2 separate regions of the Homo sapiens genome follow, and region 1 is linked to region 2. Evidence: fine-mapped expression QTL. A gene starts in region 2. The other region holds a variant in brackets. All regions are shown on one strand. Distances are from middle to middle.

Region 1 (4,271 bases), 20 kb before region 2:
GAAAAAGAAAAAAAAAGAAATGAGGAGTTTAAATAAGGCAGCCACATAAAAAGTACTCAGAACAGTGCTGAACAAACACTTCATGAATGATAGTGATTATTTTAATTTGATGGCCTCCTGGCATGAGTGTATGTACGTCAGGTCACCATCTAGATTATTACTTAGTTACTGAGTAGGCATGTCTGTAAAGTCTCAGGACCTTACCAGTGCCTGACATATAATGAGAGGTATCCCTGGCCACTACAGGGTCCTAAATTCACAACTAATAGAGAAGCACCGTTTCTACTGTCAATGATAAATTGAGAAAACTTATGAAGCCAAGAGACAGACTGGCAGGAAACTGTTCAAATACAAAAGCAGTTTAAAAAAATGTGTGAAAGACAGAATACAATAGGCTACTATGAGAAGAAACAGCTCTAGTGCCAACCGTAGGCCGTTGGCATCAGACACAGGCCTGGGTACAGGCTGTGACTGTCTCCCAGCAGCGTCCGCACTGAGGGGGCACAAGACATTCACCACAGAGTACTCAGGACAGCAGCAAACACACGGACACTGTCTCAGTGATCAACAGCAAAAGAACACTTCCGCTACCCTCTATCTCTGACATAAAATGTGGAGTGTCATGCGAGCATTAAATATACCATGACAGCTCTTTAAAACACCATGTACTCTAAGAGGGAATAAAAAGCTAATATAAAACTTTGTGGGCCGGGCACAGTGGCTCACACCTGGAACCCCAGCACTTTGGGAGGCCAAGGCCAGTGGATCGCCTGAGGTCAGGAGTTCGAGACCAGCCTGGCCAACATAGTGAAACCCCGTCTCTACTAAAAATACAAAAAATTAGGCCGGGCGTGGTGGCTCACGCCTGTAATCCCAGCACTTTGGGAGGCCAAAACCATCCTGGCTAACATGGTGAAACCTCGTCTCTACTAAAAATACAAAATATTAGCCGGGTGTGGTGGGTCATGCCTGTAGTCCCAGCTACTCGGGAGGCTGAGGCAGGAGAATTGCTTGAACACGGGAGGCAGAGGTTGTGGTGAGCCAAGATCGCGCCACTGCACTCCAGCCTGGGCAACAAGAGCAAAACTCCGTCTCAAAAAAAAAGAAAGGAAAAAAAACACTTTGCGGTGGACACTTTGGCAATATCTAACAAAATCCAAATTCCCCCATCTAGAAATTCATTCTGTGTGCACCACAGCACATACGGAGGATGGTCACTACAACAGAATCTAAATGACCATTATTAGAGGCTTAAATAAACTGCACTGAATACAATGAAATGCTATGAAATCACTAAAATGAATGAGCTAGACACATGCAGCACTGAAAGCCCAGCCACAGGAAGGATTTGAGAAATACGCATGTGAGGCCAGGCACAGTGGCTCACACCTGGAATCCCAGCACTTCGGGAGGCCGAGGCGGGCAAATCACCTGAGGTCAGGAGTTCGAGACCAGTCTGGCCAACGTGGTGAAACCCCGTCTCTACTAAAAATACAAAAATTAGCCAGGCGTGGTGACGCACGCCTGTAATCCCAGCTACTCGGGAGGCTGAGGCAGGAGAATCACCTGAACTCGGGAGGCAGAGGTTGCAGTGAGCGGAGGCTGTGGTGAGCCAAGATGGTACCACTGCACTCCAGCCTGGGTGACAGAGCAAGACTCTGTCTCAAATAATAAACAAGAAAGAAAGAAAGAAAGAAATATGCCATGTGGAAGAAAGGAAGTTGTGGAACATGTACCTCATATGCACGTATCCGTTATGTGTGTGCTCACACACAGGCACAGAGACATGCACAAAAACATACATACACAGAAACAAATTCTAGAAGGAGCTACCCCAAACTGTTAACAGTAGTTATCTCTGGAGGGGCAGGATTATGGGAGACTTTTAAACTTTCTACATTATAAATCACTATTTTCTGCATTGTGTCAAATACTATACAC[A/G]ACTTTGGTAATCTAAAAGGAAATAATGCAGATATTCATACTTAAAAAAAATCTTATGAAGAATTCTAACACTGGAAAATGCTTATAAAGATTATAAAACCAAATATAAATTATACATATAATTTACTATGTAAAAAAATACAATAAAAACTAGGCTATTAGGAAATAGGCTAAACTACTGAATTGTGGAATTGTGGGTAACTTCCTTTTTTCTTATTTGTGAAATTTGCTACAATGAGAAATCCTTTTATAATCACTAGCAATAAGCAACTTCAAAATTTCTACCTTGAACAAAGTGACAGCTTTGTCACCCACAGAACACTAGGACCAGACGATACCTTTAAGCAGATGTCCCTCAGCTGTGCTCTGACTTCTGCTACCAGCGTCATATTCTTGCTGTTGACAAAATTCTCTTTGCACCAATCCTGAATAGGAGAAAGAGTGATATCACAATCCACTCATTCACCATTTATATGTTCACAGAGACGGGGTCTTGCTCTGTTCCCTAGGCTGGAGTGCAGTGATACAATCATAGCTCACTGCAAACCAATCCTCCCACCTCAGCCTCCCAGATAGCTTGAACTATCTGCACATGCCACCATGCCCAGCTAACAATCCTCTCATCTCTATAGAGAAAATATAACAACATTTTTAGAACACAGTTGAATTCAGAGAAAAAACTTCAGGTGCCAAAAAGAAACGTAGGAAAATATCTTTATATCAAAAAACATGAACTATAAGAAAAGTGTTAATAATTTAAACTAAAGAAAAACTTGAAGTTTCCCAGATTGGGATATTTGTCTCATCATACCCAATAAATGATTAGAATCTCTAGAATTGATTTTAAAAGTTCTACAAGTCATTAAGAAAAAGACCAACGACCCAGTAGAAAAATGGACAAAGGATATGAACAGACACAGAAAACAAAACAGAAATGCCCAGTCAATTTATGTAAGACTTCTTTCTTTTTTCTTTTTTTGGAGATAGATAGAGTCTCGCTCTGTCACCTAGGCTGGAGTGCAGTGGCACGATCTCGGCTCACTGCAACCTCTGCCTCCCAGGTTCAAATGATTCTCATGCCTCAGCCTCCCGAGTAGCTGGGATTACAGGTATGCACAACCACGCCCGGCTAATTCTTGTATTTTTAGTAGAGACGGGGTTTTGCCATGTTGGCCAGGCTGGTCTGGAAGTCCTGGGCTCAAGTGATCCACCTGCCCTGGCTTCCCAAAGTGCTGGGATTACAAGCTTGAGACACTGTGCCTGGCCCTGGGCAAGTTTTTCAACTGCACGAAGCTTCGTTTCCATGACTACATGTTTCATGAATATAAAAAATAATAATTATAGTGCTCATTTCTTAGGATTACTTTACTGAATAAATGAGATCTTACATTAAGAAGTGCTTAGCATGGGGCTTGGCACAGAGTAAGTACTCATTCATTGGTACGCACTATCATTATTAGACATATTACTTAATCAAGTTCCAATTAAGTTTTGATGGGTTGGGAGTCACTTAAGTCTTGTTGACTTAAACACATTCGGAACAGAGACCAGAATGACACTGCTTCGGTACTGAAGCATTTCTGAAATGCTGTCTGGCTTTCTTTTTGTGATTCTTTAGATAATTTAGCCAAAAAGGGAAAGCGTACTTTTTGCACGGCTTCAGTAGAAAAAGGGAAGCACATAGCAGAGACAAGCAGCTATCGCTGGAGAACAGGTGCAAGACAAGGCTCACCTTATTTCCGCCTAGGTTTTTGAAGGTCCGATAGATATTGAGCAGGGTCATGTGATCCCCCTCGCTGGATATGAACTTCTTGCGGACCCCTTGCACTTCCTCTCGCCGGGAAGGAGGGTTGTGGAGGACGCTGTCCACAGACAGCAGGGAGACAATGGTCAGGATCTCCTCTGTACAGTGGAATTTGGGGGACATGAGGATGGTCTGCAAAGCAAAATTTAAAATTGTGTAAACCCAGCTTTCTCCTAGCTTTAGAATGCACTATTTCTGTACATTGCTTTTGCAGTTTCCCTTCTAAGGAGTTAAAGGGCAGGTATTTCTAAAACCATGGCGATGTACATTAGTGTTATTTCACTCTTTAATATTCAATAAAACAGGTGACTGCCTTCCCTACAGAGTTCCAAATTTCTTGTGGGTAGGGGCTCTTAACTTCATCTCTTTGAATCCCACACTGAACATGAATCAGGGCTATTTGCAAACTAGGGGTTGGTAATTATGTAAGAGAAAAAGTGAGATTAATCTAGAAGCACTGGGTAGATGGTACTACTTTGGGACGGTTAACTGTAATGTACAGAAAGAGGACTGAGGAGAGGGTATC
Region 2 (4,271 bases):
CGAACTTACCAAGGTTTTCAACAAAGGTAAAGGTTGCTAAAAGTTAACAGTGTAACATGTATTTAAAACTATTGAAGAGACACTTTATGTGCAAGGTGTGTAAGGAAAGTAAAGTACACTTTCGGTAAAAAGATTATCAGGAGGGATAAGAATGCACATTTTTACCTACGTTAAAAGGTTAAATAATTGTTTTGAGGGGGCCAGGTGCGGTGGCTCACGCCTCTTTCTATATCAACCAATCGGGCCTAGTAAAAAGCGCTGCTAAAAAACGTAAAGAAAAGGCTAAAAAGCTAAGGGAGTACCAAAACCACCAAATGGACTCTTGGTTTGAAAACAAAATCATAGCATGGGTCATCCCATTCCTGGGCCCTCTCCTAATAATATGCCTGGAACTAATGTTCTTACCCTGCCTAATTAATCTTTTTCAAAGATTTTTAACTGACAGGATCATGGCAATTTCACAAACAACTACCCAAAAACATCTACAGACGGCATTGCTCCTAGTCAACCCGAGACCAGGAAACTCTCCATCCCCTCGTTGCAGGAAGTAGCCAGAAAGAACATGCCGTCCCTCCTCCTTTTTATAACTATAGGGTCTGGATTGACAAAGCAGGAACATCACCATCTTGGACAAGCCCCTCATTCAAAAGTTCACCTTAATAAAAAACCGCCTAAATCCAAAAGGTATCAGCCTAATGGCTAAGGTCAGCACGACCATAAACCACAAATAACATCTCCAGCCAGAAACATTCCAAACTCCTCCCCGACCAGAGACATGTTAAGGGATAACCCCACTCTGGCCGGGAATATGCCAGCCGGGAATATGCCAGCCGGGAGATAAACCCCCTCGGGCCGGAAAAATGTCTGCCCCAAGATAACATCCCCTGCTCCCAAAGAGTCCAACCCTGCCAAAAACTTCTCCACACATATAAACATTCCAAGCTTGTGATAAGCCCCCTCACCCTAACACCAATATATACTCTTAGTCTGTAAGAGAAAGGGCTCCTGACCGAAATCGGCCAGGAGCGCCTCTCAGGTTTTAACTAAAGAAAAGCTGTCTTTAACTGCCAGCCGCGTTTCGTGTTTCTTTCCTTTTTCTTTAACTCTTACAAATAGCTCACATCCAAATCCAGTGGGCATCACATCCAAGTCCAGTATAACCGGACTTGACTGCTGCATCTGCTCACTCTCTATTCCTTTGACTAGCAGCACTCATGGGTCTCCTTCCTCTCTTTGGCTGCTCATCCTTTCCGTCCTTCAGTATCTCCTCTAACACGTTGGGGATCATAAGCCCCATGAAATCAGTCCCTGCCCCACAACTCTGCCTCTTTTCATGCACCAGAAACTACACCTTCCCTTTCGACCGGAATGTGTTCAGGTTCCCATCTCTCAAACGGGCTTTCCCCCCTGCCTAGAATGCCCTCCCTCCCACACGACCTCCCCAGCCGCCTCCTCACAAACCGGGTCAGATCCACTCTTCTAAGATCCGCAAGCCCCCGGTACGTTTCTCTACCCTTTTACGCGGAAGGTGAGTCTTTGCCTACACACGTTGGTCACTCTCACCGGGCTGTCCAGCGCCTCCAGGGCAGGGCTGCCGGACTCTTCTTCGAGGCCCCTCTCCAGGTCTGGCCCAGAAAAGGTATTCAGGTTTGTTGAAGCCACGAACGAAAGGGATTGAGAGGCATGTAAGAAAAACTGCTCTAGCTAAGCCACGGACGAAGTGCAAGGAAGAGCCCGCCGGCGCGGCCACTCACCGATGAGGACCGCGTTGTCCAGGTTTCGGAGCTGGGCCAACAGTTGCCCCCGCGCTTGGAAGATGGGCAGACTCCGGCGCTGCAGCTCCACAGCTTCAGGGTAGGGACTGGCCGAGGGCTGGGCCAGGGGCGGCTGCTGCCTCCGGCCTCCTCCTCCTCCTCTGCCGCCGCTGCCCGCAGTCAGCAGCATCACCACTTGCCTCCCGGGAGGGAAGGACCCAGCGCGGCTCGGAGGTCCAGAGCCTGGCCGGAATCTCTTGGCCGGCGGGAAGCCCGCCTCCTCCGGCATGTCGGGAGGGCACCGCGGCGGGAGGCGCAAGCGCCGAGAGCTCCTGCCCCCTCTCAGGTGCAGACAACAGGAGCACACCGCCCCTTCCTCGCCGCCACGTGCTGGCGGCTCCCGGCGACCACCGATGACCTCACGGCCGCCCCAGTCTTTAGAAAAAGGGACTGCATCTCCCAGCATGCCTTGGGGGCTTGGGAAGGCTTTCACTTCCTGGGGGTGGGAAAAGCAGGGCCTGAGGTACAACCAGGAAAAGGCCCGGAGCTACAACCGGGAAACACAGGATGTAAGGTTCCGTGGGACTGTAGTCTTGGTTAACGAGGTTTTTCTCATTGTTTTATTTTTTTTTTTTGAGATGGAGTTTCGCTCTTGTTGCCCAGGCTGGAGTGCAATGGCGCGATCTCGGCTCACACTGCAACCTCCGCCTCCTGGGTTCAAGCGATTCTCCTGCCTCAGCCTCCCAAGTAGCTGGGGTTACAGGCGTGCGCCACCGGGGCCCGTCTAATTTTGTATTTTTAGTAGAGACAGGGTTTCTCCATGTTGGTCAGGCTGGTCTTGAACTCCCGACCTCAGGTGATCCGCCTGCCTCGGCCTCCCAAAGTGCTGGGATTATAGGCGTGAGCCACCGCGCCCCGCCCATTGTTTTGTTCTAGTAGCATTACTTCTTTTCAGTAAACCCGCGTTTTCCCCTTCTCTGTCCAAATAACAGTCACTCTTCAAGGAAAGTACTTAATTCTGTAAAATCAATGAGAAGCGCAAACGTGCATTGTCTAATCCTCTAAACAACTTATAAGTTATGTGGTATATACTGGTTATTAGATTATCTCTAATTTACAGATTAAGAAATTGAGTCATCTTAGTCATTCAGATGTCCCCAAATCATAATTTTGTGATCATCTTGTGTTACAGAAAGGAAAACCAATTCTGATATACATGAATTTAACTCAGAAAATGACTCCTCCAACGGATGTGGTCGCCTCCAGTAATACAAGCAGAGAAAGGAGGGAGTTCAATGAAATTAAAATTGTCTTTTATCTTTCCTTTCCCCCAACCATTCCAGCCAGACTCTCAAGTTCTCTACATGGCTGTGCAACCCCATCACAGACACTTCAGTGAAGATTCAGAACTGCAGCAGAAAAAAGTAGGATTATAACTAGTTCTTCCTTACCCTCCTAAAAGTTCTTAGATGATTTGCTAATTTACCACGGAGAATGCCAAGTAGCTGTTTGCTCTTACAGGAAATGTGATTTCCAGAGAATACACCGTAAGCTTCAGCTCATGTGAAGGGTATCTTCTGAAGCTCGTTTCCATGAAACTCGCCCTGTTAAATATCTCCCTTCCCGTGATTCGTGAGAGAGCTAGTCTAAAAACAAAAAACCTCCCCTTTGCTCCAGGTCGGAGATAATTTTCCTCTAGTTGCTGACAGTTTGGTGACCAGGCATTACTGAAAATGTGCACGTTGAACCAGCAGCAGATTTGTGTTTAAGAATAAACTGACAAATTTTCACTTCCTACCCTGAAATATTTAGAAAGGCAACCCAAAACTACAAGGGATAATAAATGTTAACTCTCAAATTATGGACTTTGAGTAAAGACATCCCAGTCCTTTTTCCCAGTGTGCTTTCCAGAGTAACTTAAGGTAGGAGTCCGATGTTCCAAATGATTACAATAATTTAGGTAATGTAAATGGGTGGACTTATTTCTTGATGGAGCACATTCCACCTCTACATGCAGCCCCTAATCATTTCTAGGCAATGGCTGTCATGTAGACCTATTATTGCCAGATCTTCCAATTTTCTCAAGAAAAGCCAAAAGTGAAGATTTTTATCTGTCAATGTTAAATACAGGTTTAAACTTAAAAAAAAAAAAAGTACTGTCAAAACAAAGCACATAGGTAGGTAACAAATCTGTAGGTAACTCATCCATAATCTCTGGCCTAATGATCCAGCTATTCTATAGCCTCAAAGCTAAGAGGACCAAAGAGTGGAAAAATTAAGTCCTATATATGCATCAAGCCATGCTGCTCACATTTCTCCCATTGGTAGACTGAAATCTGCTGTTTCTCCTGAAGAAGTCTCTTGGGGTTCACCAGCTTTCATATGTAGATACTGACAAGCTAATAACTATTCAGAGAATATCCTGGTTCTTCCTTCAAACGACGAAGTGTCAGACACATTTCATTTTTAACTTGTCTGGGATGGTCTGTGGACTTAACTGGTCTGATCACGACCATA

Alleles and levels. Alleles are on the strand shown, and positions count from the first base shown. SD is a standard deviation of normalised expression in the study named.
With allele G in place of A in region 1, the expression in anterior cingulate cortex of the gene that starts at base 2,166 in region 2 is lower (small effect, 0.39 SD a copy in GTEx).

The links.
Region 1: its variant is fine-mapped to the expression of DHX33 in anterior cingulate cortex (GTEx, PIP 0.96).

Annotation. Positions count from the first base shown.
Region 1 is chr17:5,446,530-5,450,800 of GRCh38, forward strand. It overlaps DHX33 (DEAH-box helicase 33), which reads right to left. Exons shown (of 12, transcript NM_020162.4): 10 at 3,674-3,877; 11 at 2,280-2,366. Among named protein-coding and RNA genes, the nearest start is that of C1QBP, 9.5 kb to the left of the region's middle. The variant A/G (reference allele first, on the strand shown) is at 1,942.
Region 2 is chr17:5,466,817-5,471,087 of GRCh38, forward strand. It overlaps DHX33 (DEAH-box helicase 33), which reads right to left and starts at 2,166. Exons shown (of 12, transcript NM_020162.4): 1 at 1,755-2,166. The coding sequence starts at 2,043. DHX33-DT (DHX33 divergent transcript) reads left to right here and starts at 2,276. Exons shown (of 3, transcript NR_135644.1): 1 at 2,276-2,323; 2 at 3,098-3,178; 3 at 3,276-3,544. RefSeq lists enhancers at 1,218-1,800, 1,590-1,809, 2,190-2,259.